4 linked regions of the Homo sapiens genome follow. The protein of the gene in region 2 interacts with the protein of the main gene of each other region in a pairwise test. Each region holds a gene or a part of one and is shown on either strand. Other genes may lie near its edges.

Evidence for each region.
Region 1: the proteins of SGTA (region 2) and SPPL2A interact in binary tests that used the Homo sapiens proteins (3 or more experiments, as listed by UniProt).
Region 3: the proteins of SGTA (region 2) and TRIM5 interact in binary tests that used the Homo sapiens proteins (3 or more experiments, as listed by UniProt).
Region 4: the proteins of SGTA (region 2) and ZBTB8B interact in binary tests that used the Homo sapiens proteins (3 or more experiments, as listed by UniProt).

What each region holds. Positions count from the first base shown.
Region 1 is NC_000015.10:50,762,029-50,769,737, reverse strand, and holds the start of SPPL2A (signal peptide peptidase-like 2A isoform 1 precursor), read left to right. Parts: upstream 1-4,031; 5' UTR 4,032-4,204; coding exon 4,205-4,270; intron 4,271-7,709. UniProt on the Homo sapiens protein: Intramembrane-cleaving aspartic protease (I-CLiP) that cleaves type II membrane signal peptides in the hydrophobic plane of the membrane. Functions in FASLG, ITM2B and TNF processing.
Region 2 is NC_000019.10:2,753,859-2,759,741, forward strand, and holds the end of SGTA (small glutamine-rich tetratricopeptide repeat-containing protein alpha), read right to left. Parts: intron 5,437-5,883; coding exon 5,399-5,436; intron 3,925-5,398; coding exon 3,835-3,924; intron 3,600-3,834; coding exon 3,485-3,599; 3' UTR 3,479-3,484; intron 2,076-3,478; 3' UTR 857-2,075; downstream 1-856. UniProt on the Homo sapiens protein: Co-chaperone that binds misfolded and hydrophobic patches-containing client proteins in the cytosol. Mediates their targeting to the endoplasmic reticulum but also regulates their sorting to the proteasome when targeting fails.
Region 3 is NC_000011.10:5,681,623-5,690,058, forward strand, and holds the start of TRIM5 (tripartite motif-containing protein 5), read right to left. Parts: upstream 3,453-8,436; 5' UTR 3,246-3,452; intron 1-3,245.
Region 4 is NC_000001.11:32,460,458-32,468,300, forward strand, and holds the start of ZBTB8B (zinc finger and BTB domain-containing protein 8B), read left to right. Parts: upstream 1-4,614; 5' UTR 4,615-4,648; intron 4,649-7,843. UniProt on the Homo sapiens protein: May be involved in transcriptional regulation.

The sequences.
Region 1 (7,709 bases), on a different chromosome or scaffold from region 2:
GTTGGTCAATGGTGTTGATCAAGTCTTCTGTATCCCTGCTGATTTTCTGCCTACTTGTTCTTTCAATTATTAAAAGATTTTACTTGAAATCTTTAACTGTAATTATGAATTCATCTATTTTTCCTTTCAGTTTAATTCGTGTTGGAGCATGGGATTTATGTTTCATTTTAATTTCTCAGATCACTCTAATATGCAGCCAGCGTTGAGGGACATTGCTTTAAGCCAATGGTTCTCAAACTTCAGCATACATCAGAATCACACAGGGAACTTGTTATTAATAGAATAGATTGATGGACGCTACTCCCAGAGTTTGTGGGGTGAGGTCCAAGAATTTGCATTTCTTTCTTTTTTTTTTTTTTTTTTTTTTTTAGTACAGACGGGGTTTCACCATGTTAGCCAGGATGGTCTCGATCTGCTGATCTCGTGATCCACCCGCCTCGGCCTCCCAAAGTGCTGGGATTACAGGCGTGAGCCACCGCACCCGGCCAAGAATTTGCATTTTTTATAGTTCCCAGGTATTTCTGATATGCTGATCCAGGAGCCACACTTTAAGAATCACAGTCTAAGCCAACATTTCTCAACCTTAGCTGCATATTAGAATCATCTGGGGAGCTTTAACAATCCTGATTCACCACACAACCCAGATCCATCCGCTTTTAAGGAATAGAATGTGAGGCAAGTTTCCACTAAGCAGTTCTCTACTTGACTTTTCCCTTTGGCTTAGTGATTTTGGGGTCCCAAGATTTATTTTCCTTTCACAAGTTCCAGCACTTTGGGAGGTAGGCAGATCACCTGAGTGCAGGAGTTCAAGACCAGCTGGTAACACAGCGAGACCTCATCTCTACAAAAAAAATACCAAAATTAGCCAGTCGTGGTTGTGCATGCCTGTAGTCTCAGCTACCCAGGAGGCTAAGGTGGGAGAATCACCTGAGCTGGGAGGTCGAGGCTGCAGTGAGCCGAGATCGTGCCACTGCACTTCAGAGCCTGGGGCACAGAGTGAGACCCTGTCTCAAAAAATAAAAACAAACAAAAACTAGAGCTCTTCTGATAGCCCAAGAGCCAGTTTAGAGATTCACTAGGCAAAGGGCCACGAGAGGCAGATGGGAATATTTAGAGATGAAGTCATCCAGTCCATACAGCTATTCTATAAAAGGGGAACCTAGGCTGGGCACGGTGGCTCACGCCTGTAATCCCAGTACTTTGGGAGGCTGAGGCAGGCAGATCACCTGAGGTCAGAAGTTCAAGACCAGTCTGGCCAATATGATGAAACCCCGTCTCTACTAAAAATACAAAAATTAGCTGGGTGTGTTGGTGGGCACCTGTATTTCCAGCTACTTGGGAGGCTGAGGTAGGAGAATCGCTTGAACCTGGGAGGCGGGGGTTGCAGTGAGATGAGATCATACCATTGCACTCCAGCCTGGGCAACAGGAGTGAAACTCCATCTCAAAACAAAAAGAAAAGGAGGGGGTGGGGAACCTGGCTTGCTGTGGGCAACTAGAAAGTATGAAAATAGTCCAGAATTGATAGGCAGCAGATGAGGCAGTTCTTACCTCACTGTGCCCCTAAGCTTCAGACCAACCCACATAGCCATTGACAGCAGATATTTGCACTTGGATATCCTAAAAGCATTTCAAACCCACTTCCAAAAGTATTCCCCCCGACCCATTTATCCCATCAACCCCCACCTACTTCGCCTTTGGCACCCAACTCAATAAATAGCCGAGGGCAAGAACCCGGGAATCATACCTCTCCCTTTATCTCCATGTCTTCAAAGTTACCAAATTCTGCTACAAGTCTTTTAGATCCATCTCCTCCTCCCTATTTCTTCTGCCACAGTTCAAGCCCTCAGTGTCCCTGGATTTTGTTACTACAGATGTCTAACAGGTGTCCTGGCTTCCACTTCTTGACCTGTTTCAACACGTCTGCTGCCCTGCCAGCCACCATAGAGAGCTTTCTAAAACAGAAAGTGTATGTCATTGCCCTATTTATTATTCATTTGTTCTCTACCCCTGGCAGGACAAAGCCCAAAGTCACAAACAGTCCCAATGTATTTATGATTTTGCCTCTGGCCTCTTCTCACATGTCATCTTTCACCACTCATAACTTCAGCCAAGCCCAAGTTTTGCAGTTCCTTCAATGCCACCTTTGGCTTTGACACTAATGGCTCACTCTTCCTGGAAGTGCCCCCCTTCTTCTACCCTTTGCCTGGCTAAAATTAACTCACCCAGACTCAGCTCAGGCTGGTATTTTTCCTGGCACCCCTTTTATAACTCCTTTTGATACTTCCATAACATCTTGTGCAAACAAGAGTCACTACTCACCCTGAACTGTGTTTGCTCACACATCTGTGTCCCTCGTTAAACTATGAGCTGTGGGGTGGCAGGCACACTGTCCTATTCAGCATTTGATATTAAATATTCATCCAACAAATATCTGAGGACCTACTATATGCCAAATACTGTAGATGTAAAGGGTATAGCAGTCAACAAAGCAAAGACACCCCTTGCTATGAAGTGGGAGGTGGCATAAATAAATGAACCTATACATAGAATGAAAAGTGCTGTGCAGATAATTAAAATAAACAATAATATGAAAGTGACTGGACAGGCCGGGTGCGGTGGCTCATGCCTGTAATCCCAACACTTTGGGAGGCCAAAGCGGGTGGATCACCTGAGGTCGAGAGTTTGAGACCAGCCTGACCAACATGGTGAAACCCCGTCTCTACTAAAAATACAAAATTAGCCGGGTGTGGTGGCACGCGCCTGTAATCCCAGCTACTGGGGAGGCTGAGGCAGGAGAATTGCTTGAACCTGGGAGGCGGAGGTTGCAGTGTGCCGAGATTGCACCATCGCACTCCGGCCTGGGCAAGAAAAGCGAAACTCCGTCTCAAAAAAAAAAAAAAAAAAAAAAGAGAAAGGAAAAGAAAAGAAAGTGACTGGACAGGTACTTTAGATTGGGTATGTCAGGAAGTCCCGTCTGGGGAAGCGACATTGAAGCTGATAAGTGAATGTCAACAAGGCAGGCATTCTGAGCTTTGGAGAGAAGAGCACTCCAGCAGGGAGGACTACCAGAGCAAAGTCCGGGCGGCCCACCAGAGCAAAGGCCGGGAGGGCCAAAGGTCCGTGCGCCTTAAAGTGTGGGAAAGTAGTGAAGATGGGGAGACAGGAAGGCAGGGGCCAGATTTACCTTTGCAGGCTAGAGTAGAGTTTTGATTTTTTTTTTTTTTTTTTTTTGGAGACCGAGTCTCGCTCTGTCGCCCAGGTTGGAGTGCAGTGGCACAATCTCGGCTCACTGCAACCTCCGCCTACCCGGTTCAAGCGATTCTACTGCCTCCGCCTCCCGAGTAGCTGGGACGACAGGTGCGTGCCACCACGCCCAGCTAATTTTTTGTATTTTTAGTACAGACTTGGTTCCACCATGTTGGCCAGGATGGTCTCGATTTCTTGACCTTGTGATCCGCCCACCTCGGCCATCCAAATGCTGGTATTACAGGTGTGAGCCATCACACCCGGCCAAGTTTTTATTTTATTCCAAGTGTGATAGAGAGAGACATGATCTGACTTATATGTTTTGAAAGATGGCTCTGGGACTGTTATGTGGCTACTGGGCTGTCCGGAGGGGAAACTGAGACCCGTTTGGAGGAGAGGGAAGTTGGTGGCCTGGATAGAGTGGTGGCAGCAGTTCTGGAGAAAGTGGATGGATCTGGGTTATGTGGTGAGTCAGAGTGGCCAGGAACAAATGACAGGCAGATGAATTAGGGTGACCCTTAGATTTCTGGCTGCATGCAACACTCGGGTAGTTACTGGGGAACCGAGCAGACGCTCAGACACTTCCGAGCCTTGAGAAATCCGTTCTCCCGCCAGGCTTCGGTGTGAGTTAAAGTCGGGCAGCCGGAAAGCGACAGGCTCAGACCCGCAGCCGGTGGCCTCGTAGCGCCGGGACGCCGGGACGCCTGGATACCGGGAGAGCGCTGGGACTCTCCGAGCCCGGCGCGGGGGTTTCCGCATCTTACGGGCGGGGCCGGAAGAGGAAGTCGCGCTGCTGTGGCGGCCGCTGTAGCAGCGGCGGTCCAGTCGTAGCCCGGCCGCCCGCGCCTGTCCGGTCCGGTCCGGCCACGGAGGCAGCGCAGCGGCGGGACTCCGAGCCTACCCCGCCGAGTGAGCTGCGCCGCACCGTGCCGTCCCACCCGGCACCCACCAGTCCGATGGGGCCGCAGCGGCGGCTGTCCCCTGCCGGGGCCGCCCTACTCTGGGGCTTCCTGCTCCAGCTGGTAAGGGGGCGGGAAGGCGCGCAGGCCTCCCAGGGGCTGGGCGGGGCCGGGGCCAAGGCCGGGGCTCCCTTCCCCTACTCCTCGCCCGGCCTCCCCTCTGCCCGCACCTCCGCGGCCTGCTCTCGCACTCCTCTTTCCTCCCCTCCTCTTTCCATTACTCATCTCTTTCCTTCCACCCTCCTCTTTTCCACCCTCTTTCCCCCAACTTTCCCGCCCCCCACTCGGTTCCCGCCCATTGAAGTCTGGCGAAATACCTACCGCAAAAAGATCAGAGGAGCCCCTTAGGTTGCGTTGACCTTGATGCTTCTCGATAGTTGCTCACTGTCCCAGCATATTTAAAATTGACCTCTGGGTTTTATTGTCTAAGCCTTTCTTACCGCTTTTTACCCTTGGGAAGAAAAAAAAATTATACAAGGCGCCAGTATGTTTAGCGGTTCGAGGACTGCACTTTAATTGCACTAACACGGATGTCTTTTTAAAATTCCCTTCCCCCACTGTAGCTCCTGCTTCGCCTTAGGGCTCATTTGATTCTGTTATGAGGGTTTTTTTTTTTTGGAGGGGGGGTTTTAATAGCAGTAATTTAAAATAACTTTTAAAAGAAGACACCAAAATGTAATGCTTTTAGTGGTTTTCAGTTTTCTGCCTAATTTAAAGGGATGGGTGGGGAGCGTCGGTTAAATGTAAGTAAGAAATATGTGTTCATAGATTTGTTTTCATAGTCACAGAGAAGTAATAGTGTTTTAAAATTCAGCCTCAAGTAATTCGAGCTTCAGTGTGGGAGTGGGGTGTCAGGAACCCGGTGTTTCAGTTTTTGTTTCTAGTGACTTTTACTTAGGGAGTTTCAGGTTGGAAACTTACGCATGTTATTTATTACAGAATTGGTGTCGTGTAAGCTTGTTTCGTTCTATTAGAATGTGTGATTTCTTTGAAAGACTGTTTTGCTGACTCTCCAGTTTAAGGGGTTAGTATTAGTGAATACAAAAGTGTCTTTAATATTTATTGAAAAACCAAAATCTAAGCCAAAAAGTAAGTGCCTTTTGGTGTATTCATAACTTTGACAGGCAACATCAGGAACCTGAGAGAATGTATCTAAAAATTGCTGGGGGAGGGGAGTTCGATATAAAAAGAGCAACAAAGTAGCAGTGTTAGTCGGAGTCTTTAAGGTGTTTACTGTGTAATCAGACAGATAATACTTATGTCCAAAAGATATTCAGATAGTATGTAGATGTATGCAAAACTATAACCTAGATATAAAACTTTTCAAAGTGTTTTTGCATTCATTTTCATTTGAATCTCTTGAGCTGATTTTAAGAATGAATATCACATTCGTACTAATCCCTTCTCAACATAAATTAATAGCTTAGTGATACATCAGTTCCTCATAAACTCACATTGAAATTCTTATTAAAGGCCCTGAGCCCTCTCACCAGAAAACTCTACTTAAGTAGACTTGTCATTTGATTTCATAGCCTTCACAAATCTAAAGATCATCCCTGTTCTAAATTGTATCTAGGCTGTCTCCCACGTTCTGGATTTTAGGCCTTTTTTTGTTGTTGTTTTTGTTTTTTTCGAGACGGAGTCTCACTCTGTCGCCCAGGCTGGAGTGCAGTGGCGCGATCTCGGCTCACTGCAACCTCCGCCTCCCAGGTTCAAGCAATTCTCCTGCCTCAGCCTCCCGAGTAGCTGGGATCACAGGCAAGCACCACCATGCCCAGCTAATTTTTGTATTTTTAGTAGAGATGGGGGTTTCACTATGTTGGTCAGGCTGGTCTCGAACTCCTGACCTCGTGATCCACCCTCCTCGGCCTCCCAAAGTGCTGGGATTACAGGCGTGAGCCACCATGCCCGGCGATTTTAGGCCTTTTATATTGCACCTATGTGCTTTGTTGTACCTCACCATGGTAATCTCGGGTTCTATATTCCTCGGTTCTAGGGTTGTTGTGAAGATTAAGTAACATTTTTCTACACTGCAAATGTTTGGTGTGCATCTTATTATATGGGATGTAATGTCCTGATGACTGAATAAACTGACAATATCTGTTTAAATTGTAAGGATCTTTTTTCGATACCAGCTAGTATCACTGATTTTTCTATTTCTTGTTGATTTCTTTATGGATTTGTTTTCTTCTTGGTTCCTCCTTCCTTTAATTTCCTGAGATGTTCTTTCTCATTCCTTTCGTGTTCTGAGAACTTGGGTAGATCTGGTTTCCTTTTCCTCAGCTGGAGTTCTTTCTCCTTTCTGGATACCTAGTTCCTTTCCTCCAACTCTGTCTGAAGTCTTCTACCATTTTCTCCCTGAAGCCCTTTGTTTATTCCTCTTCCCTAATTTTACAGCTCTAGGTAGCCTTTCTGAGTTCCTTTGATTAGTGATGCCAGCTCAATCATTTCATTTCTCCTCTCTGGGCTCTTGAAACTGGCACTACTTGTCCGGGCGTGGTGGCTCACGCCTGTCATCCCAGCACTTTGAGAGGTCCAGGTGGGTGGATCACAAGGTCAGGAGTTTGAGACCAGCCTGGCCAATATGGTGAAACCCCGTCTCTACTAAAAAAAAATACAAAAAAAAAAAAATTAGCCGGGCGTGGTGGTGCGTGCCTGTTATCCCAGCTACTTGGGAGGCTGAGGCGGAAGAATTGCTTGAACCCGGGAGGCAGAGGTTGCAGTAAGCCAAGATCGTGCCACTGCACTCCAGCCTGTGTGACAGAGCGAGACTCCATCTCAAAAAAAAAAAAAAAGAAAAGAAAAAAAGAAACTGGCACTGCTTCCCCTTAGTCATGTAATAACAGGGCCAACATCCTCATCTATAATGGAAGCAGCACGTAGTCTTCAGAAACCACTGGCACATCCATCTAGAAGAGGCAGAGGATTTAGTATTGGAAAGGCCCTTAAAGATCATTTGCCTACCCTCCTCATCTTGTCATCTTCACATCAGAGTGACCTCACTGTGTATTTTGAACTGAAGCTACAGCACATCTGGCTGTTTTAATATTTTTTAAACCCATTAGGTCTAGAAATTAAATGAGCGCCTAGCAGGTAGTTAGCTGTGTCTTGACCTTGCCATAAGTACATTTTATTTTTTGGGTTTTTGTTTTTTTTTTTTTTTGAGATGGAGTCTTGCTCTGTCGTCCAGGCTGGAGTGCAGTGGTGCGATCTCAGCTCACTGCAGCCTCCACCTCCTGGGTTCAAGTGATTCTCCTGCCTCAGCCTCCCAAGTACCTGGGATTACAGGTGCCTGCCACCACACCTGGCTAATTTTTGTAATTTTAGTAGAGATGGGGTTTCACCATGTTGCCCAGGCTGGTCTCGAACTCCTGACCTCAGGTGATCTTCCTGCCTTGGCCTCCCAAAGTGCTGGGATTACAGACATGAGTCACCATGCCTGGCTGCCATAATTACATTTTGCACCTCTCCTTCCCCAGTTCAACCTCGACCCTGGGTCACA
Region 2 (5,883 bases):
CCCAAAGTCCTGGGATGACAGGCTTGAGCCACCACACCTGGCCAAGGGAGCAGCTTCTATGTTCACAACAAAACTCTGTGCAGCACCCTAGGGTTGGGGCTGAGATGGGCCTGGAAGCTTTCTGGGCTCCTTCTTGCCTGGGACTCCCTCACTGACCCATTCTCTCAACTGGAGCCGTTGTGAAAGGGAGGTGCCTTTGGTTACAGAATACAGAATTTATGGAGTTACAGTATGCTAGAAAAGCAACAGACAAAGCCAGGTGCGGTGGCTCACGCCTGTAATCCCTGCACTTTGGAAGGCTGAGGCAAATCACCTGAGGTTGGGAGTTTGAGACCAGCCTGACCAACATGGAGAAACCTCGTCTCTACTACAAATACAAAAAATTAGCTGGGCGTGGTGGTGCATGCCTGTAATCCCAGCTACTTGGAAGGCTGACGCAGGAGAATCACTTGAACCCGGGAGGTGGAGGTTGAGGTGAGCCGAGATTGCGCCATTGCACTCCAGCCTGGGCATCTAGGGTGAAAGTCTCAAAAAAAAAAAAAAAGCAAAGCAAAGCAACAGACAATACGATCACTCTCTGCTGAGGACCGAGGCATCTCACCCCACCCTGGGGTGACCCTCTACACCGGGATGCAGCTGGGGACGGAGGCGGAGGGAAGGGAGACAGCAGAGGGTAGAGGCTGACTGTCCGAAACCTCCCATGACCCGTGACCCGTGACCCAAGAAGTGCGGCTCCGGCGTCGCGGGGATTCACTCACAAGCAGCCCAGCTGATCCACAAACTCCGCGTCGGGGGTTTTCTCGAGGTTTGGGGTTGGAGGGTATCGGTGGCGCCAAGGTCAACACGAAGACAGACAGAGGTCACAACGCCTATTTATTCCCCACACGTCACGCCCTGCACCCCGGGTGGGCTTGGCACACACCTCACCGCCATGAGCGGCTGCAGGGCCGCGGCGGCCCCCGTTCCTACTGCTACCTACGATACACGGTACTGCGCCTACCTCACAGACGGCCAGGAGCCAGGGAGCCCCAGGATGCTCCGACTGACAACCCTGCTGCTGGGACCACGGCGCCGTGGGCTCGTCTGCCACCCCCAGGCCTCAGGAACCCAGACAGGCTGCCTGCTGTCCGGCTCTCCGGCTGCTTTCCTGGTGGCTGTTTTAGGGCCAAGGTGGGTGGCACCTGAGGTGTCCCGTGGCCTCCACCCAGCACAGGAGGGGTAAGCTTCCCTGGGGGGCCCCGGGCCCATGAAACATCCAGGACAGAAGGACAGCAGGATGGGACACAGACAGAAACGGCCCAGCTGCCTTCCCTGTGCCCGGGGCTAAGGCGGCCGGGACAGAAGGTCATGATGTCGCCCCTGGCTCTCAGTCGCGAGGACCAGAAAATGAGGGTGGGAGGAGGGGAAACATGTCTGTCAACATGCCCAACTGGAGAAAAGTCACAGAAACTGGTCCTATGCACCCAGGACGGCTCCTGAGCCGCGGAGGCGTGGGGTGACCGCAGCCGTCTCTTAGGTGTCTGCCACTAAAGAGTTCCTCATGCAAACACACATGGCCCGCGGTGCCCAGGCCGCAGCTGGCAGTGAGCTCTTCCGAGCAGGCACAGGGCCGGGGTGGCCGGGAGGTCGACTCGGAAAGAGGCTTCTCACAGACGGGAGAGTTCCTGCAGACAGACCACGGGATGGGGGGCGGGGGCTGTAAAAGGCTTTGGAAGCCACACGATCCGCCACACGGCTGAACGTGAAACCTGCCACTTCTCTGAGAGCGGCCCGGGAGCACCCCAGGATTCTAGAAAACACTCAAGTGACCGAGCTTTCTGGGGGCTGGAAGGGAGGTCGCTGCTGGTCTGTGCTCAGCTTGCTGGCTCTCGTTTCAAGAAGGGTCTGGGGGCTGTAAGGGAGTTACAAAAAGGGAGTGGAGGAGGGCAGAGATAAAAGGGGAAAATCCATCTTGACATGCAGGTCCGAGGTCTCTCTCTTCCCCTCTCTCAGGCAGTCCAACAGGAGGAAGTGGCAGACAACCAGAAGGCTTCCTTCGGGTCGGCCAGGGAAGGACGCGGTCACACCGGGAGCAGCTGGAAGGGGACAGACATGAAGGCTGTCAGAGCGCAGGTGGGGACCAAGGCTGCACCACACACTCCAGGCAGCAGGAGAGGCCCAGAGTGGACAGCCAGGGGCCACAGCGGCTATTTCAACGAACGTCAGAGCCACAGCTGCACCAGAAGCGTTCCACACACTCGGGGCCACGTGTGGCTGGTGGCGCAGAGAACATCGCCATGACCTAGAAGGGTCTACAGTATGGTGGTACTTTGTGTATGAGGTTACGGTGGTAAAAAATCCACCTCAACTATTAAAAAAAGAAAAGGAAAAATAAATAAAAGCTTATTTAAAAAAAAAAGGGAAGACTGGAAGAAAAGGCGGCCAAAATATTAATGTTGGTGGCTCTGGGTGAGAAGATTAAGGTTGGGCTGAATGCACGGCTCACACTTTGGGAGGCCGAGGCGGGAGGATCGCTTGAGCCCAGGAGGTTGAGGCTGCAGTGAGACGTGACTGCACCACTGCCCTCCAGCCGGGGGGACAGAGCAGGACGGTCTCAAAAAAAAAAAAAAAAGATTAAGATTGTTCTTGCTGCTTTTTAACATTTTTGTATTTTAAATTTGTCTACAGTAATTATGGTTTAAAAATGAAAGAGAGTGTATATGAGGAGGGGACAACGACAAAATGAAGAGGCCACATGGGAGCAGAATGGAAACACCTCTGGGGAGGCCCGGAGCCTCCCGCCCCCAGGGAGCCGGCGTCTGCTGGAGACAGACAGGACTGAACTCAGGGGAGCCTCCCACCCCTGGGAAGCCGGTGTCTGCTGGAGACGGACAGGACTGAACTCAGGGGCCCCTGGGGAAGGAAACCAAGCCAGCCACGGGCCCCTGGAACCCATGGGGGACACTGAGTGTATTTTTAAACAACTGTAAGTGCAACACCTGCTCACAGTGAGAAAAGGACAAAAAATCCCTCACAAAATGCAGGCAGAACGCTCGGGCGCAGTCAAAGGCAGGTACCCGGCTTGTCCTTTCCACCACTCGATGACCTCGCCCCCACCCCCGAGGTGGCAGCCCCGACACTGCAGAAACAAAGAGCTTCTGCAGGCGGCCTTAGGCAGGGGGGACCCCAGACACCAGCCCTTCCAGGGAGCTGTGGCTCTCCCCTAATCTCCACCCAGCGCCGATCCACAGATGGGAAAGGAGTGGGGAGCAGGACTTGGTGGCCACCTGGAAAGGGGCCCAATGCCCAGAGATGCCCCCACCTGCCTGGGCGGTTCAGGGTGATCTTCTGAGCTGGATGCACCCAGGACTCGCTGTCCAGTGTCCAGACAGGCTCCACAGCCCCCGGGCGTCACTCCTGCTGGCTGCCCTCACTGCCAGGCACTCACGTGGTGTCACTCCTGCTGGCCACCCCCCAGCCCCCGGCCCCATGCACTCACGCAGCGTCACTCCTGCTGGTCGTCGTTGCTGGCGCTGGGCGTCCGACTCCGGATCTGGCTCCTGAGCTGCTCTATCAACTCTGGGTTCTGCTGCTGCATCTGCTGGGCAAACTGCTGGCCCCTGCGGGGAAGGGCACATGGGGCTCAGCCAGGGCCAGGAGGCTGCCTGCTGCCTCCGTCCATCCCCAGCTGACCCCTCGGGCCCTCCACCCCAAAGACAGGCCTGACCCCTCGCTGGAGGACGCTGGGCCCTTCGGAGCAGGGGACGCAGCACTTTCGCTCTCCTCCTTCCCTTCCGCCTGCGAGCCCTGCCCGCCGCCCACGTCCTCCGTCCTCTTGGAAGCAGTTCCACTCACGCCTGGATGAGGCTGGCCAGGTCGTTCTGCGAGGGGCTGGTGCCGGGAGTTCCCAAGGGGTTGTTGCCACCCGAAATCATGCCGGACATGCTGCAGGAGAGAGCGCGTGACTCGCAGCCGGGACAGCCTGACCGCCACCCCCACTGCAGGCCCTCGCAGTGGCCCGGGAGAGAATCCCTCTCAGCCCTTCACCTTCCCCTGCAGGAGAGGATTCTCTCTCACCACCTGGTGGGCCTCCAGGGCCCAAACCCACCCTGTGACTTTCACCTGCTTTCCCAGAACACCCCTCTTTCTTTGGCCTAAAGAGCGTAGTTCTCAGCCAGGGGGTGATCCTGCCCCCAGAGGACCCCTGCAATGGCAGCGGACATTTGCAACAGCCATGATTGGGTTACGCCAAGACAGGGGCAGGGGGTGCTCCTGGCATGGAGTGGATGGAGGCTAGAGACAGTGCTCAGCACCCTGCAGTGCCCAGGACGGCCCTGCTCCAGAAACTGGTCCAGCTCAAATGGCCACGGTGCTGTGGCTGGGAAACCATGCTTTAAGATTTGACCGTGGGCCAGCCGCGGTGGCTCACACCTGTCATCCCTGCACTTTGGGAGGCTGAGGCGGGTGGATCACCTGAGGTCAGGAGTTCAAGACCAGCCTGGCCAACATGGTGAAACCCCATCTCTACTAAAAATGCAAAAATCAGCCGGGCATGGTGGTGGATGCCTGTAATTCCAGCTACTTGGGAAGACCCACTTGATCCCGGGAGGCAGAGGTTGCAGTGAGCCAAGATTCTGCCACTGCACTCCAGCCTGGGTGACAGAGCAAGATTCTGTCTCAAAAAAAAAAAAAGGAGAAAGAAAAAAAGATTTCACCATGAAAACAGGTGAGCAGCTCCCCAGTGCGCACAGCGCTTACTGGGGAGTGACCCTATGAGCCAGCGAGTGCACTCAGAAGTTTATATCCAAGAGAAACGAAAACAGGATTCACACAGACGATTGCACACCCGTGCTCAAGCAGCACCGTTCACAACAGACAAAAGGTAGAAACAGCCCAAATGTCCATGGATAGATGTGTGGATCAGCACAGCGTGGTCCCTCCACACTGGAATATTACTCAGCCATGAAAAGGAGCGAGGCCCTGACCCAGGCCCCAGCACACATGCACCTTGAGGACGTCACGCTCAGTGAGAGACGCCAGACACCAAAGTTCACGCAGTGTGTGATCCCATTTCTACGAAATGTCCAGGACAGGCCCATCCACAGAGACAGGAAGGGGATGCGTGGTTGTCAGGGGATAGGAGAGGGGTTGGGGAGTGACAGCTGAGGGGGAAGGGGCTTCTTTCGGAGGTGATGAAGATGGGTTGGTGCTCAATGGTGGTGACAGTTGCATGACAGTGTGATGGTGGTGACAGTTGCATGACAGTGTGATAGTGGTGACAGTTGCATGACAGTGTGAAAGTCCTTAATGCCATTAAGTTGCACACTTTAAAGTGGTTAGTTTTATGTTAAGTGAATTTACCCACAATAAAAGGAAATTTAACCACAACAAGACCCGAAGAAACCCGGTTGTCACTTACAGCTGCTGAATCTGGGGATTGTTCATTAGGTTCGAAGCCTGAAGAACAGAACAAATTTGTCAGGAAGACAAAGCTCCCAGCGCATCATTCTCTTTCATCAGACACTTTCCATCTTAACCAGCCTTGGTTCTGGACTCCAGCACGCCAACCAACAGTAAGAGCCGGGCATTCGGTCTTTCATACCCTTTTCCCTACATTTTCGCCCCCCCACCCACGAGCTGTGACCTCCACATTGTGACTTAAATCCTGTTTTGGGTTCCTGCTTCAGGAGCGATCTCGCAGCGCCACAGCGCTCTCTCACTGGCTGCTGCGGTTTTGCTGTGTGGAGGCGTTTTGGTTCTTTATTTTAGCTGCTGTCTGCTTTAGCATATTTCATTTAGCATATTTGGTTCCAGTTTTGCTCTATCAATAAATAGCACTGTGGCTGGGCGCGGTGGTTCACGCCTGGAATCCCAGCACTTTAGGAGGCCGAGGCAGGCAGATCG
Region 3 (8,436 bases), on a different chromosome or scaffold from region 2:
GGCCTGGGAGTTCCTTCAGACCCCCATAAAACTTGTTTAATCCTAAACAGGTCCTAATCGATTCCTTCGTTATCTTGTCATGCTTCAAGGCCCAGGAAAGGCCTGGGCAAAACTCTCAGTGGGCTTCTGTTACATTCCAGCCTTTGTATAAGGGCACTGGCTCTATCAGCTTTTAATATTTTTTTTTCTTTTTTGAGACGGAGTCTTGCTCTGTCGCCCAGGCTGGAGTGCAATGGCACAATCTCGGCTCACCACAACCTCTGCCTCCCAGGTTCCAGTGACTCCTCTGCCCCAGCCTCCCGAGCAGCTGGGACCACAGGCACGCACCACCACACCCGGCTAATTTTTGTATTTTTGGTACAGATGGGGTTTCACCATATTGGCCAGTCTGGTCTCCAACTCCTGACCTTGTGATCCACCTGCCTCGGCCTCCTAAAGTGCTGGGATTACAGGCGTGAGCCACCGTGCCCGGCTTCAGCTTTTAATATTTAACTTAACCAGACGGGTGTGGTGGCTCACGCTTGTAATCCTAGTACTTTGGGAGGCCAAGGCAGGCGGATCACCTGAGGCTGGGAGTTCAAGACCAGCCTGGCCAACATGGTGAAATTCTGTCTCTACTAAAAATACAAAATGAGCTGAGCTTGGTGACAGGTGCCTGTAATCCCAGCTACTTGGGTATTCTTTCCACATGCTTCTCCTGCTCTTCGTATCTCACCTAAGCTCTGCTTTTGGGGGGCAGATACGGCCCACGGAGAGGGAGGAGCAAGGTTAATGATTTTTAAGAAAATCCAGTAGTTCCCTGAGTCTGGACTTGGTGCCCTAGTAGAGGCAAACAGATGCTGTCACCAGGGAAGCCCTGATGAAATGACTGGGAAAGTTATTTTTCTTAACGTTTTTCTTTATTCCCTTTATGTATAGACAAAGTTGCTTAAGAAGAAGCCAGACTGCCCAGCATGGTCCAGATCTTGACCCCTGACCAGATCCAAGGGGGAAATTAGACCCCCGAACCAGCGTATATACTGGAACTGACAATCCCTAATTGCCTTTAGATCATTAACATATCACTAGAGTGTTAAGTTACCCCCTCCCCCACACGACACCAAACAAGAAAATCTCCACCATTTTGTGTGCCTGGGTTGTATTGAGAGGTGACAGCATGCTGGCAGTCCTTGCAGCCCTCACTCGCTCTTGGCGCCTCCTCTGCCTGGGCTCCCACTTTGGCGGCACTTGAGGAGCTCTTCAGCCCACCGCTGCACTGTGGGAGCCCCTTTCTGGGCTGGCCAAGGCCGGAGCTGGCTCCCTCAGCTTGCAGGGAGGTGTGGAGGGAGAGGGGCGAGCGGGAACCGGGGCTGCGCGCCGCGCTTGTGGGCCAGCTGGAGTTCCGGGTGGGCGTGGGCTTGGTGGGCCCCGCACTCGGAGTGGCCGGCCGGCCCCGCTGCCCCGGGCAGTGAGCGGCTTAGCACCTGGGCCAGCAGCTGCTGTGCTCAATTTCTCGCCGGGCCTTAGCTGCCTCCCCGCGGGGCAGAGCTCAGGACCTGCAGCCCACCATGCCTGAGCCTCCCCACGACCCCTTGGGCTCCTGTGCTGCGCGAGCGTCCCTGACGAGCACCGCCCCCTGCTCCACGGCGCCCAGTCCCATCACCACCCAAGGGCTGAGGAGTGCAGGTGCGTGGCATGGCACAGGACTGGCAGGCAGCTCCACCTGCGGCCCGGTGCAGGATCCACTGCGTGAAGCCAGTGGGGTTCCTGAGTCTGGTGGGGACTTGCAGAACCTTTATGTTTAGCTAAGGGATTGTAAATGCACCAATCAGCACCCTGTGTCTAGCTCAGGGTTTGTGAATGCACCAATCGACACTCTATATCTAGCTACTCTGGTGGGGACTTGGAGAAACTTTATGTCTAGCGAAGGGATTGTAAATACACCAATCGGCACTCTGTATCTAGCTCAAGGTTTGTAAACACACCAATCAGCACCCTGTGTCTAGCTCGGGGTTTGTGAATGCACCAATCGACACTCTGTATCTAGCTACTCTGGTGGGGATGTGGAGAATCTTTGTGTCTACACTCTGTATCTAGCTAATCTAGTGGGGACTGGAGAACTTTTGTGTCTAGCTCAGGGATTGTAAATGCACCAATCAGTGCCCTGTCAAAACAGACCACTCGGCTCTCTGTAAAATGGACCAATCAGGAGGATGTGGGTGGGGCCAGATAAGAGAATAAAAGCAGGCTGCCTGAGCCAGCAGTGGCAACCTGCGCTGGTCCCCTTCCACACTATGGACGCTTTGTTATTTTCCTCTTTGCAATAAATCTTAATACTGCTCACTCTTTGGGTCCACACTGCCTTTATGAGCTGTAACACTCACCGCGAAGGTCTGCAGCTTCCCTCCTGAGCCAGCGAGACCACGAACCCACCAGAAAGAAGAAACTCTGAACACATCCGAACATCAGAAGGAAGAAACTCCGGACATGCCGCCTTTAAGAACTGTAACACTCACTGCAAGCGTCCGCGGCTTCATTCTTGAAGTCAGTGAGACCAAGAACCCACCAATTCCGGACACAGTATGAAGACATGTGTTTATAAACAGAGGTGGCACAACTGGAGTTCCACCCTATAGGCTAACACTCCTTTCTCTCCCCGTACTCAGTTCTTTTAAAGCCAATGCTTTCCACTGTTTTGGGGGAGGGGGCTTTAGAGAAGGAGCTCTCTTACTCTCCACTCCTAGCAAGAAATAAAACCTGCTTGCCTTTTTTCCCATTATCTTTGTAACCAATATGAACTAGGGAAAGAACTCCATTTACAGTGACAATGACAGGACTACAGAACTGGACAGCTGTCACACCATGAAGGCTGATGTCACAGAGCCAGGCCAAGGTGATGAGAACTGACCTGTAGAGTTATGCAGAAACACTACATTAGTAAACTAATAGGCATTAAATCATTAGGATTCCAAGGCCCCTGTCTTTGCCCTTGTTGTTGGGAGAAGACACTGAAAGAGAGAATTCTGGCTCTCTACAGCAAAGTTCAATTAAAAAGTATAGAGTAGGGAGGGGATGGGGAGAGAGTCAGCATGGAAAAATAACCAGCCTTCGGGAAACAAAGCCCTTCACTTTAAAGCTCTCCCTTCTTTCAAATCTGCCTGCCCGCCAGGCGGCTCTGTTCCCCTCAGTCAGCTCTGGCAGCAAGAAGTCTGTGAACTGTGTCTTTTCCCCACCCCCGCACAGCTTTTCAGATAAGTTAAACTCACCAAGGTAAATACAGTTTTGTCCCAAAGACTTCCTACTTCTGCCCTCCACAAAATCACTCAATACACCTTCAGACACCAGTGCAGAAGTGGTGATTCTGGGGAGAAGAGTGAAGACAGGCCAGGGAAGACGTGGTTAGGATTCACTCACCAATCCACGGGCCTGATCTGCACAAAGGAATTTTCCTAGAGGAACCGCAGGAAATTCTTGCTCACACTCAGGGCAGGAAAGTGAAAGATAAACTATGGGCCAATGGCATTTCTCCACGTAGGGCCTGGTGAGTCCCGCCCTCTGAATGAATCAGCCGGGCCGTGTAGCTGTGCTGTTCACAGGAGGAGCCGTGGGAACTAGAGGCATTCCCACTCAATCTCCCTTTTCTCTTGAGTCTCAGGATCTTGTTATCATGCCACTTCTTCTGACATAGTTTCAGATTAACCCAGCCAAGTATTAAAAATTAGAAAAGGTGCCCTTTTTCGAAATTCTTCCAATGTGCTCCTCTTGCTCCTGATCTCACAGCTGAGTTCTGCTTCTGGGTGACAGATATGGCCCAAAGAGAAGGAAGAACAAAGTTAATGATTTTTAGAGAATTGCAGTAGATTTCTGGTCTGGACTTAAAAATCTTATAGGACCTATGAACAGAAAAGGAGCTGCAGGTAGGAGAGATGTCATATTATTAAGACTCCGAAACCCAGAGAGGACAGGATGCTAGAAATTTATCTGGAGAGGGCCGGGCGCGGTGGCTCACGCCTGTAATGCCAGCACTTTGGGAGGCTGAGGCGGGCGGATCACAACGTCAGGAGATCGAGACCATCCTGGCTAACACGGTGAAAACCCATCTCTAATAAAATAAAATAAAATAAAATAAAATAAAAAATTAGCCGGGCATGGTGGCGGGTGCCTGTGGTCCCAGCTATTCCGGAGGCTGAGGCAGCAAAATGGCGTGAACCCGGGAGGCGGAGCTTGCAGTGAGCAGAGATCGCGCCACTGCACTCCAGCCTGGGCGACAGAGTGAGACTCCGTCTCAAAAAAAAAAAAAAAAAAAAAAAAAAAAAGAAGTTTATCTGGAGAGCGATAAAGAAATACCACATTATTTCTTTCAACTATTCACTTTCAAAGAACTCTCCAACTTCCCGCTGTTGTCTTTTCCAAAGTATCTATTGCATCCCTGAGCAGGGCCAGGCCTTCCTCTCTCTTCTCTTCTGGTTACTATGCAAAACTGGTCCAAAAGGCTGAACTGTGGTCCATGTACCATAGCCTCCCTTCTAAGCTTTCCCTTACTGGAACATCTCAGGAAGTCCACACTGGAACTAGGATCATTGGTAGAGAGGAGTATTTAGTTTGAAAATGAAAATGCCTCAGGAGAAGGCAATGGGGAGCACTGCAGTGGGCAGCCTGTTATCACTTAATTCCATCATCAGTAACCTCATACCCCCTCCACACTGTACCCCCGCAGCTTTCTGTTTCATGAAATCAGGTAGGGGGCTTTTGCATTTTGTTCTTTATTGTCTCAGATTTACTAGAATATGGTGTATATAAGGAGTAATATTTAAATAGATATGAAGATATATAGCTATTAATCTAATTTTAATTGAATATCTTGATGTCACATTTCTGTTCTATTCTTGCTGTAAAGATAACTGCTGTGTCACCTAGTTTAATTCAAATATTCTTCTGGCATTAGTAATAATTATGTGGCAGTAATAATTATAGTAATAATTATAATAATTAGTATTATTAATAATTACAATTATTAATAGTTACAATTATAATTAATATTACTAATTGTTATTTAGTAATAATTATGTGGCATTAGTAATAATTATGTAATGATTACATTTGCAGTGGCTCACACCTGTAATCCTCGCACTTCGGGAGACCAAGGCGGGTGGATCACTTGAGGTCAGGAATTTGAGACCAGCCTGACCAACATGGTGAAACCTCATCTCTACGAAAAATACAAAAATTAGCCAGGTGTAATGGCAGATGCCTGTAATCCCAGCTACTCAGGAGGGTGAGGAAGGAGAATTGCGTGAACCCGGGAGGTGGAGGTTGAAGTGAGCCGAGATCATGCCACTGCACTCCAGCCTGGGCAATAGAGTGAGACTCTGTCTCAAAAAAAAAAAAAAAAAAAAAAAAAAAAAAAAAAAAAAAAAGTAATTATGTAAATTTTTAAACAAATTTTAAACGATTTTTTAAAATATCCTCTCTGTTTTCTTCCTAAGTATTATTCAGACTCTAACCATATTTACTCTTATTTTGCTCTTTTTCTTGAAGAGAAAAATGTTAAATATCCATGGACCCAAAGGTAGAGATATTTCATTTGATTCCTTTTCAAGCAGGAAAGCAGGATATATAAGGTTTACAGGCTGGGCGCGGTGGCTCACGCCTGTAATCCCAGCACTTTGGGAGGCCAAGGTGGGTGGATCATGAGGTCAGGAGATTGAGACCATCCTGGCTAACAAGGTGAAACCCCGTCTCTACTAAAAATACAAAAAATTAGCCAGGCGCGGTGGCGGGCGCCTGTAGTCCCAGCTACTCGGGAGGCTGAGGCAGGAGAATGGCGTGAACCCGGGAAGCGGAGCTTGCAGTGAGCCGAGATCGCACCACTGCAGTCCGCAGTCCGGCCTGGGCGACAGAGCGAGACTCCGTCTCAAAAAAAAAAAAAAAAAAAAGGGTTTACAGAGAAAACACAGAGCTCCAACAATAATATATTTTTTCTACAATTTAGAACATAGGTTAGAATATGGAGCCTGCCAACATGCTCTACTCTGGTGATAAACTGTGTGTGGTGCATTCAGTTTTTCTATTGGCCCACGTTTTCTGGTATCTTGTCAGGACCTAATATTACTACTGTTTTCTCTCAGCTGCAATTAATACTTCATGAGATAAATCAGACCAGGATGAAAGTTCACTTCAGATGTTCAAAGCCAGACGAGAATAAAAGGATGGCTATGAGATCTATGGAAGTGCTGAGAAGGGAAGAAATAATGGACAGAGAACAGGTCTCTGGATAAATGAGTTCATTCACTTTGTCCATTGTGGTTGACACTCGGACTCCACTCTGTGCACTCCAGAAAAAACACATTCACTCACTGAGCGCTCACTCCCCTACAAATGTCAACAAGATATTCTATTCAAACATGGAATATACCTAAAATTACATCTCTTGCTTATTTATCTTCAAGAAGAAATAAGAAAATTTCACGCCTGTCTTAGTCAAGGTTCATCATAGCAATAGAACCACTAAACTATGAATTTATTTGGAAAGAAACTTGAGAAATGTCTCAGGTGATTCTGGAGACTGGCAAATCCAAAGTCTGCAAGGTAGGCCAAGAGGCTCTGGATCCAAGAAGGAGTCAACGTTATAGCTCACGCCTGAGGTTTGCCTGCTGGTAATATTCCCTCTTCTCGGGGAGAAGTCAGTTTTTTCTTCTATTCTGGCTTTCAGCTGATTGAATAAGGTCCTCATAGATATAAGTGAGTAGGAAAGAATTTATAGCCAGGATTAGCTTATTATTCTGTGAGCAACAAATAATACCAAAATATCTATTATTGAAATAATAAACATTGATTTCTCAGTCATCCTACATGTGTATCATTGATTAAAGTATGAAGATGGCCATGCTCCATAGTGTCAGTCAGGGATCCATGTTATGGAAGCTCCATGAGTTGCCTTTTTTTTTCTTTTTTTTTGGGTGTGTGTGTGTATGTGTTGTGTGGTGTTTGTTTGTTTGTTTTTTGTAGAGACAGGGTCTTACTATGTCACCCAGGCTGCAGTGCTATGGTGCAATGACGCAATCTTGGCTCAATGCAACCTCCACCTCCTGGGCTCAAGCCATCCTCCCATCTCAGTTTCCTGAGTAGCTGGGACTACAGGTGCACATCACCACACCCAGCTATTTTTTTTTTTTTAATTTTTCTTAGAGATGGGATTTCACCATGTTGCCCAGGCTGGTGTTGAAGTCCTGGACTCAAGTGATCCACCCACCTGGGCCTCCCAGAGTGCTGGGATTACAGGCATGAGACACCACAGGCCTCCATCAGTTTTTGATGGCATTATCTGGCACATGCAGTTAAACAAGAATACAATAGACAACAGGGTACAGAAGTATGTGCATGACGTATAACATGTTTCAGTGCTGCTTTTTAATTGATTGTGTAAAAATGACCAAACTTTTCTTAGAGAAGCAGGGAAAAGTGGAAAAATTATGAAGGCATGAGAGTAACTCAATGAATGATTATAATTAAACAGCATCATCTGTTAACTTCCATGTTCTCACCTGCCTCAGTGGCTGGGTAACATGACACTGACACAGTTTTACCTCTATTACTCTCTGGAATCCATCCTCATCTGGTCTGTCTGGATTAGGAGCAGGAAGTGATAATTAATTGATGGACTCTTAAGATTTAATGACATTTTGAGAACATTTTTTTCAATGGGCTCACACTAAAGATCCTTTTATTTATAAAAATAATTTTTTTACCATTCACAATGTCAGCTGCTAATACTCATCTTGTCAGCCCAAATTTGTAGAGCTTTATAACTGAGTATCTTCCTCGTCAGACTGCATTTCAAGAAGCTAGGTCCCAAGTCTCTGGATCTTTATTTTCCTGGCTTAGGTCTTAAATATAAGATAAATTCGACTAATAATTATAGGACTGCATTGGAATTCTAAGTATTCAGGCAAGCTGTATAACTGTAATTCACATTCTTTTTATTCAAATATTCTTGCTTGAGTAAACCACAGTAAGAATAAGGAAGTAGTGACTGAGTGCCTTGCCAGTACAGCAGATGCTAGAACATAATGTAGCATTACTTTCCCCAGGGTTTATTGTTATGTAAGTTCTTGTTCAGCTTCCTTTGTTTTCTTTCACTTCTGAGAATTTAACTTTCGTTTCTCACTCAGCTCCTGTGGGGAAACTCATTTGTGGAGACCAGCCCTCTGGCTTGGTGAGTGAATCTGGTTTACACCGGCTCCTGCCCTGCCTTCACTCTTCTCCCCTGATTCAAGACTCCTCTGCTTTGGACTGAAGGTGAGTGGAGCAATCTGTGGGAGCATAGAATGGGAGGCTTTGAGAAGAATAGATTGATTGTGTCTGGGTGAGTTTAATTTGTAGTTCTGAAGCTGCTCTGCATAAACAAAAAGAGGCAGCTTGTGAACTGTCTGCTGAGATGGCAGAGGAAGAAAGCAC
Region 4 (7,843 bases), on a different chromosome or scaffold from region 2:
GCCTGATTTTTGCTTTCTTATAGTGCAAAAGTCACCCTGTGGGTATTCACAATTTGTCCCTAACCACTAGAGGTTTTCATGAACGTATCCTTTGTAGCATTCCAGAAGGTCAACTTCTTGACAGAAGCTGTCTCCCAACATCAGTCAGTACTCAAAAATGTGTCAGTTACCAGAGAAGGGGTTATACCCTGATACTTCAATCAATTACTCTGGCATTGTAGAAACTAATAAACAGCTCCAAATATTCTATGATATCTTAAATCAAAACAATTAAGGAAGAGGCAAGGGAAACAAATAGTGCCTGCTGCGATGCTTTCTCATTTCCCTTTGGGAAGATAGGGTTGCTTGTTTTCCAGGAAGTCATCCCTTAGGAATTTTTTTTTTTTTTTTGACAGAGTCTTGCTTTGTCACCCAGGCTGGAGTGCAGTGGTGCCATCTCAGCTCACTGTAACCTCCACCTCCCAGGCTCAAGTTGATTCTCATGCTTCAGCCTCCCAAGTAGCTGGGATTACAGTCGTATGCTACCACACCCAGCTAATTTTTGTATTTTTATTTTTATTTACTTATTATTTTGAGATGGAGTCTTGCTCTGTTGCCCAGGGTGGAGTGCAGTGGCAGCATCTCTGCTCACTGTAACCTCTGCCTCCTGGGTTCAAGCGATTCTCGTGCCTCAGCCTCCCGAATAGCTGGGACTACAAGTGCGTGCTACCATGCCTGGCTAATTTTTTTGTATTTTTATTAGAGAGGCGTTTCATGTTGGCCAGGCTGGTCTCAAACTCCTGACCTCAGGTGATCCACCTTCCTTGGTCTCCCAAAGTGCTGGGATTGCAAGCGTGAGCCACTGCGCCTAGCCTAATTTTTGTATTTTTAGTGGGGGGTGGTTTTGCGATGTTGGTCAGGCTAGTCTCGAACTACTGACCTCAGGTGATCCACCTGCCTCGTTCTCCTAGTGCTGGGATTATAGGCGTAAGCCACTGCACCCAGCCAGCAATTTTTAATTCTCTATTTTTTGCTCTGGAGGTCCTAAGTTTTAGATTCAGTGACACATTGCTGTGCCATTCATGCTGCTGGGTACTGTCGATTAGCAGTCAGCATCCATTCCCATCTCCTTCTAGTGTCCCTTCCTATGCTGCAGAATCTGGAGAGTTAAAATGTCATGGCCAGGATTTGGAAATGAAGTGGAGGCCACCCGCCTGCTGCTTGCTGCTGAAGTGTGGCAGCAAAGGTATGAGGTGTGTCTGCAGCAGGGTTGCAGGGTCCAGTCACTAGCCATGTAGGGGTCGAGAGCCTGTTTCAGGGGCAGCAATAGTGATGGTGACTTCCAATCCCTTAATCACAGCCACAACAGTGTGTTGTTGAGCTTAACAGGTACAGTGGTGATGTCCTGATTTCTTACCTTCCTGATTGCAGCAAAAATGGGTAGCTACCCTGTTGGGACAGTTTGGAGTCATCCCTGCAGAGTCATTCTCTAGCCTCCCTGATAATTTGTATTACTTAATTCCTTATATGAATTCTTTTCTGTTTAAACTAGCCAGGTTGCTTTTTGCTTAAACTAGCCAGGTTGGTTTTAACTGAACCTTGAAAAATATACTGAAGTTCAGAGCATCTAACACTAAAGGTTGTGCTGGTCTTGGTGGCGAGAGTAAGTCCCACAGCAGACCACAACAGATCTAGAGATCATAAGGCCTCTAACATTTCCTATGCCTAGTTGTCAGGGGCATGTCCTATGCAGGCCACCCCAAAAAGCCCTTTTACGTTAGCAGTCTGGAATGTTACTAGGTCATCCAGTACAGGTTGCGTGTGCCATAGTCATAAAATTTGGGACCTGAAACTTGGAGCCTGGATGCAGGAGATGTGGAATGAATACTAGGGTGAGTTCCAGGTACAGTCATAATTAAGGTGAAGGCATCAGTGACATGACTTCCCAGGTAAGAAGATACAAAAGGCTGAGCCCAGAGAAGCTTGGTGCTCCTCACTTCTGATGCTTTCTCTGCTGCTATGATGATCAAAAGTCCTCAGCACCTGAGCTGGCCTTTGGGAACCAGGTGGCAAGGACAGCCACACTAACAGGAAAGATGTAACTGCTGCTGTCCCTCTCTGGGTATCCAGCTTTACAAGAAATAGGTAAACTACTTTTCTTTGATAGATAGTATAGTGGTGTTTGGCTGACATTTTACCTTCTAAAATTATTAAGTTATCTTTAGAGTGAACTGCAATTACATTTTTGACAAGCTCTAAAATATATCCTAAACAAACCCCTCCATCTCTACCACCTCTACCCTATCCCCAGTTATCAGCATCTATCAGCAGGGGAGAGATCATATCTTATCTCTTCCCTGCTTAAGATCCTTCGAAGGTGTCCCTTCACATTCATAAGAAAAAATCCAAACTCCTTAAGGTGGCCTACAAATTCCTACATAATCTGGCCTTTGCTTCTCTATCCATTCATATTTCCTGTCGCTTGGACTGGCTACATAATTTGTGGGGCCCAATGCAAAATGAAAATGCAGAGCTCCTTGTTCAAAAACTACTAAGAATTTTAAGAGGGCAATGGCAGAGCATTAAACCAGGCATCAGCCCTTTCCTTTTTTTTAATTTTTAAAATATTTATTTAGATTTTCTTTTTGTTAGTAATTAAATCTTTCTTCTTCTTCTTCTTCTCCTCCTCCTCCTTCTCCTTCCTCTCCTTCCTCTTCCTCTTCTTCTTCTTCCCTCTTCCCTCTCTCCTCCTCCTCGTCCTCCTCCTCCTTGAAACAGTGCAGTGGCACAATCTCAGCTCACTGCAACCTCCACTTTCCATGTTCAAGTGATTCTCATGCCTCAGCCTCCCGAGTAGCTGGGATTACAGGTATGTGTCACCATGCCCAGCTAATTTTTGTATTTTTAGTAGACACTGGGTTTTGCCATGTTGGCCAGGCTGGTCTCAAGTGATCCGCCCGCCTCAGCCTCCCAAAGTGCTGGGATTACAGGTGTAAGCCACCGCACCTGGCTCTTTTTTTGTTTTGTTTTGTTAAGTATAAAACCTCACCTGGAAGCACCAGCCCTTTCTGAGTGTGCGGGCCTGTGCCACTGCGTGGGTTGCACGTCCATTAAGCTGGTCTACCTGCCATCCACTTCCTCAACCCAATGGCATTCTCCTGTTTCTTAGATATGTACCAACCGGTTTTCTGTTTTATCTTAGCATGGCTCACTACTCCTCATTAGGGTCTCTCAGCGAAGGGGGTAGCCTTTTTTTTTTTTTTTTTTTTTTTTGAGACAGAGTCTTGCTCTGCTGCCCAGGCTGGAGTGCAGTGGCCAGATCTCCACTCACTGCAATCTCTTTGGTTCAAGCATTCTCCTGCCTCAGCCTCCCAAGTAGCTGGGATTACTGGCCCACGCCCGGCTAATTTTTGTATTTTTAGTAGAGATGGGGTTTCACCATGTTGGCCAGGCTGGTCTCGGACTCCTGACCTCAGGTGATCCACCCGCCACCACTCCAGCCTGGGCAACAGAGTCTGAGACTCCGTCTCAAAAAAAAAAAAAAAAAAAAAAAAAAAGTCATACTGGCATAGAGTGAACCCCTAATCCAATATGACTGGTATCCTTATAAAAATACTTTTTTTTTGGAGACGGAGTCTCTCTCTGTCGCCCCAGGCTGGAGTGCAGTGGCGCGATCTCGACTCACTGCAACCAAAAGGAGACATTTTGACATGGAGACATATACAGGGAATATGCCCTGTGAACATGAAGATGGCCATATGCAAGCCCAGGAGAGAAGCCTGGAAGAGACCGTTTCCTCACAGCGCTCAGAAGGAAAGAACCCTGCCAACATCTTGCTTTCAGATGCCCCCAGGATTGTCAGACAATAAGATCTGTTATTGACGCCACCGGGTTGGTGATACTTAGGTACAGCAGCCCTAGCAAACGAATACACCCCCATGAGAACTAAGCTCCCTGAGAGCGGTAAGCTGCCTTGTCTTGCTCACAGCTGACAAGAACACGCCTGTACGGTCACTTAGCACCTAGTACTGCCATTTAACCGTTTCACTAGTATGTATGAACCGGAGAGCCTGTCAAGGGAAGAGCTGAATCTTTTATCTTTTGTAACGACTACCCAGTGAAAGAAACCGCGGGTATGCAATAAAAACCTGTTGAATCGATTAAACCATTTCCCTTATTTCCAGATTTTTGCGGAAAGCGCCAGTAGGTGAAATATGTGCGGACTGATGAGTCAAAGCTCTTATTCCCTGGACTGCATTAATACCCACGACGTGCTTTTCGCTCTCCAGACAAAGAGACCGGTACTTGGCAGGTCCCTCAAGTGGGACTCAAAAGACCGAACCGAGCTGCAGCCTTTCGCTAGCACTGGTCCTCGCCCCTTTTGGCATCTTGGTACTTGTAGTTTTGTCCACTCTATCTTTACCCGAAAAGCCAGCGCTGAGACCACAACTCCCATCACCCTGCGAGCACCAGCGCCTTCAGAGCGCATCCTCCGAGGGGCACCAGCGCCATTGACCACCCTGCTGGCCGAAGGGCCCGCCTTCCCGAGGCCAGGCGCTCCCGCGATTGGCCAGCCGCCCCGCCTCTCATCGGAGGGCGCCAGGTGAATGAAAGGGGGGCGTGTCGGTGCGCGGTGCTCCGTGGCTGCGCTGCTGGAACCCGCTGGAAGGTGAGCGCGAAGAAGCGGGTTGGCGCTGCCGCTTTCGTTGGTTTGGGGAGGATTCCTAGCACCCGGGAGGCTGGCTGGAGATTGGGGTTAGCGGGCAGGGTTGCCCCCACTCAGTCATCCTCCTTCGGACCGCTTGGCCCTGGCAACTCCTGGGACCTCCGCCCCGCGAGCCCTTCTAGCGTGGGGAGGGGCAGGCGCGGCCGTGGGGCCCCAGCTTCCCTGTCATTGGGTGTCCTCCGCGTCGTCCAGCCGGGGGTCGCGGCGCCGACTACTTCCACGGTGAATGGTGCCCAGGCGTGGGGGGCTCGGCCACACTGGAGAAGTGCCAGCGGCAGCGATGGCCACTTTGTCCGCGGGAGGCCATGGGAGGGGCTAGGCCTTGGGGTCCCACCCTCGGGGGCCGTGCCCTGTAGCTGGTTCTGGTGGCCTCTCTGCAGGTCGTCTGATGCTGGACGGGGGAGGGTCTGTCTTGCGAGCAGTTTAGATGCAGTTGACCCTGAAATTCTTCGTATGGAAATGGAAACTTCTCCAGTGTCCTTCTCCTCCGATCCATGCCTAAAAGAAAGGAGTGACTTCCCCAACCTGTCGCATCGTGTCCTGGAGGGTTTGAGGAGGCCGGTTAGCATAGTGGTTAAGGATGTCAACCCGGGAGTCAGTCGGATCTCTGTTCTATTACTAACTTGGTGATGTTATCTGCATCTTTGAATCTCAGTTCCTCCTCTGAAAAAGAGGATGTAGTTAGAGTATCTGTCGTACTGGATTATTGTGAGGTGAAAACTAATGTGCTTGTAAAAGCCAGGCATGGTGGCGCGCACCTGTAGTCCCTGCTACTCGGGAAGCTAAGGTTGGGAGGATCTCTTGAGCCCAGGAGTTCCAGGCTGCATTGAGGTAGGATCGTGCACTCCAACCTGGGCAACCGAGCAAGACCGTGCCTTTTAAAAATTTTAATTTAAAAAGTAAAATGAATATGCTTGTACTTTGTACAGTGTTTTATAAGGAATAGTGCTTAATATTTACTAAAATTGAGGAGCAGGTTTTTGTTATTCTCAGGTTGGTGGGACTGGAGGAGTCTTGTCAGAAAGGGTCGGAGGTGGAATTCAAGGCTGCTTTTGGCCTCTGAACAGAGACAGTTGTGTGATCTGGCTAGGACTCCCTCAAGGGTATATGAGAGTTTGTATTGCAGGTAGTTGTGTTGGCATCTGCTGTCTCCTGGAGGACAGGCACTATACTTGGTTCATTTTTCTATTCCTGGCATCTTCCTTGTGTCAGGCATTGTATGTAGCCGGTAACCGTTGAATTGAGTTGGAACCGTGGGATGGTTGGGAGGTTCCCTGCCAGAGTGCGGATAAATGTGCTTCTGAGAGCAGTCTGCCCTAAGAGCTGCTCTTCTGGGATAAGTGGTGATCCTCAGCACTTCCCGGGGCAGCAGAGCACTTCAGGCAAATGGGGGTGATATAAATAAATATTTACACAATATATACCAAGTACAGGATTGGGGAAAATTTTGAAGAAAATACTATACGGATAGACTTTTGCAACGTCAGGAAGTAGAATAAAAATAATTGCAATAGAATAAAAAATAATTTCAGTAAGAAAGCCAAAAGAAATTGGTTTTAGGTGCTATTTCTGGAAAGGAGGCTTTTCCAGTGAAAGACGGAAGTGCCCTGGGAAGAGCCCCTATAGATCAGACCATACTACAAGTTAAGAAGTGTTGTGCGTACTTACATATTTATCTACCTGGCTTACCAACTCCTTACCCCTCTGCCCTGCCTCCTTTTTTTCTTAGTTAACAAAGAAAAAAGCCAAGGCAGAAGGATCACTTGAGTCCAGGAGTTCAAGACCATTGAGACCAGCCAGGGCAACATAGTGAGACCCCATCTCTACAAAAAAATGTTTTCAGAATTAGCTGAGTGTGGTGCTGCATGCCTGTAGTCACAGCTACTTGGGAGGCTGAGGTAGGAGGATTGCTTGAGCCTGGGAGGTCGAGGCGGCAGTGAACTGTGATCATGGACTGCACTCCAGCCTGGGTAACAAAGTAAGACCCCGTCTCAAAAGAAAAGAAAAGCAATACATGCACATAGTAAAACATTCTATCAGAAAGGTTTAAAATGAAAGGCGAAAGTCCCTCCACACACTTGTTTTTTTTTTTTTTTTTGAGATGGAGTCTCGCACTATCGCCCAGGCTGGAGTGCAGTGGCACAATCTCTGCTCACTGCAGCCTCCGCCTCCACCGCCTCCTGGGTTCAAGTGATTCTCCTGCCTCAGCCTCCCGAGTAGCTGGGATTACAGGTGCCCGCCACCATGCCCAGCTAATTTTTTTGTATTTTTAGTAGAGACGGGGTTTCACTACGTTGGCCAGGCTGGTCTCGAACTCCTGACCCCAGGTGATCTACCCACCTTGGCCTCCCAAAGTGCTGGGATTACAAGTGTGAGCCACCACACCCGGCCCCAAGTGGATTTTAAACTTGGTTTATAGTTTATCTACTAAGCAGTTAAGAAATGAATATTCCTTTTTTGCTTAACAAATCTATTTTGTCCAAAGCACTCTGCCAGATACTGTAAGGGATATAAAATTGAATAAGACATGGCTCATGCTTTCAAAGGGCTTGTAGTTCATTGACAGAGAAGGGCCAGGACATAAATAATAAACAGGAGTTAACCAAGGGTAGTGGAATCAGTCAGTTAGGAGTCTCCCAGTTGCATGAAATAGAAAACCCAACTCAGAGGCCAGGTGTGGTGTCTCACACCTGTAACCCCAGCACTTTAGGAGGCTGAGGGGGGCAGATCACTTGAGGCCAGGAGTTCGAGACCAGCCTGGGCAACATGGCAAAACCCTGTCTCTACCAAAAGTACAAAAAAAATTAGCCTGGCGTGGGGGTGGGTACCTGTAGTCCCAGCTACTCGGGAGGCTGAGGTAGGATGATTACTTTAGCCAGGGAGGCGGAGGTCAGAGTGGGCCGAGATCACACCACTGCACTGCAGCCTGGGTGACAGAGTGAGACCCCATCCCCCATCTCAAAAAATAATAATAATAATATTTAAAAAAGAAAACCCAACTCAGACCAGCTAAACCAAAAAGGAACTTAATTGGCTTCTGGCACTGCTTGAGTTGGGGCTCCAATGTTGTCCCCAGGCTCCATCAGCCTGAGCTGGGCTGTCATCTTTGTTAGGCTGACTTCCCTGGTGGTATGGCAG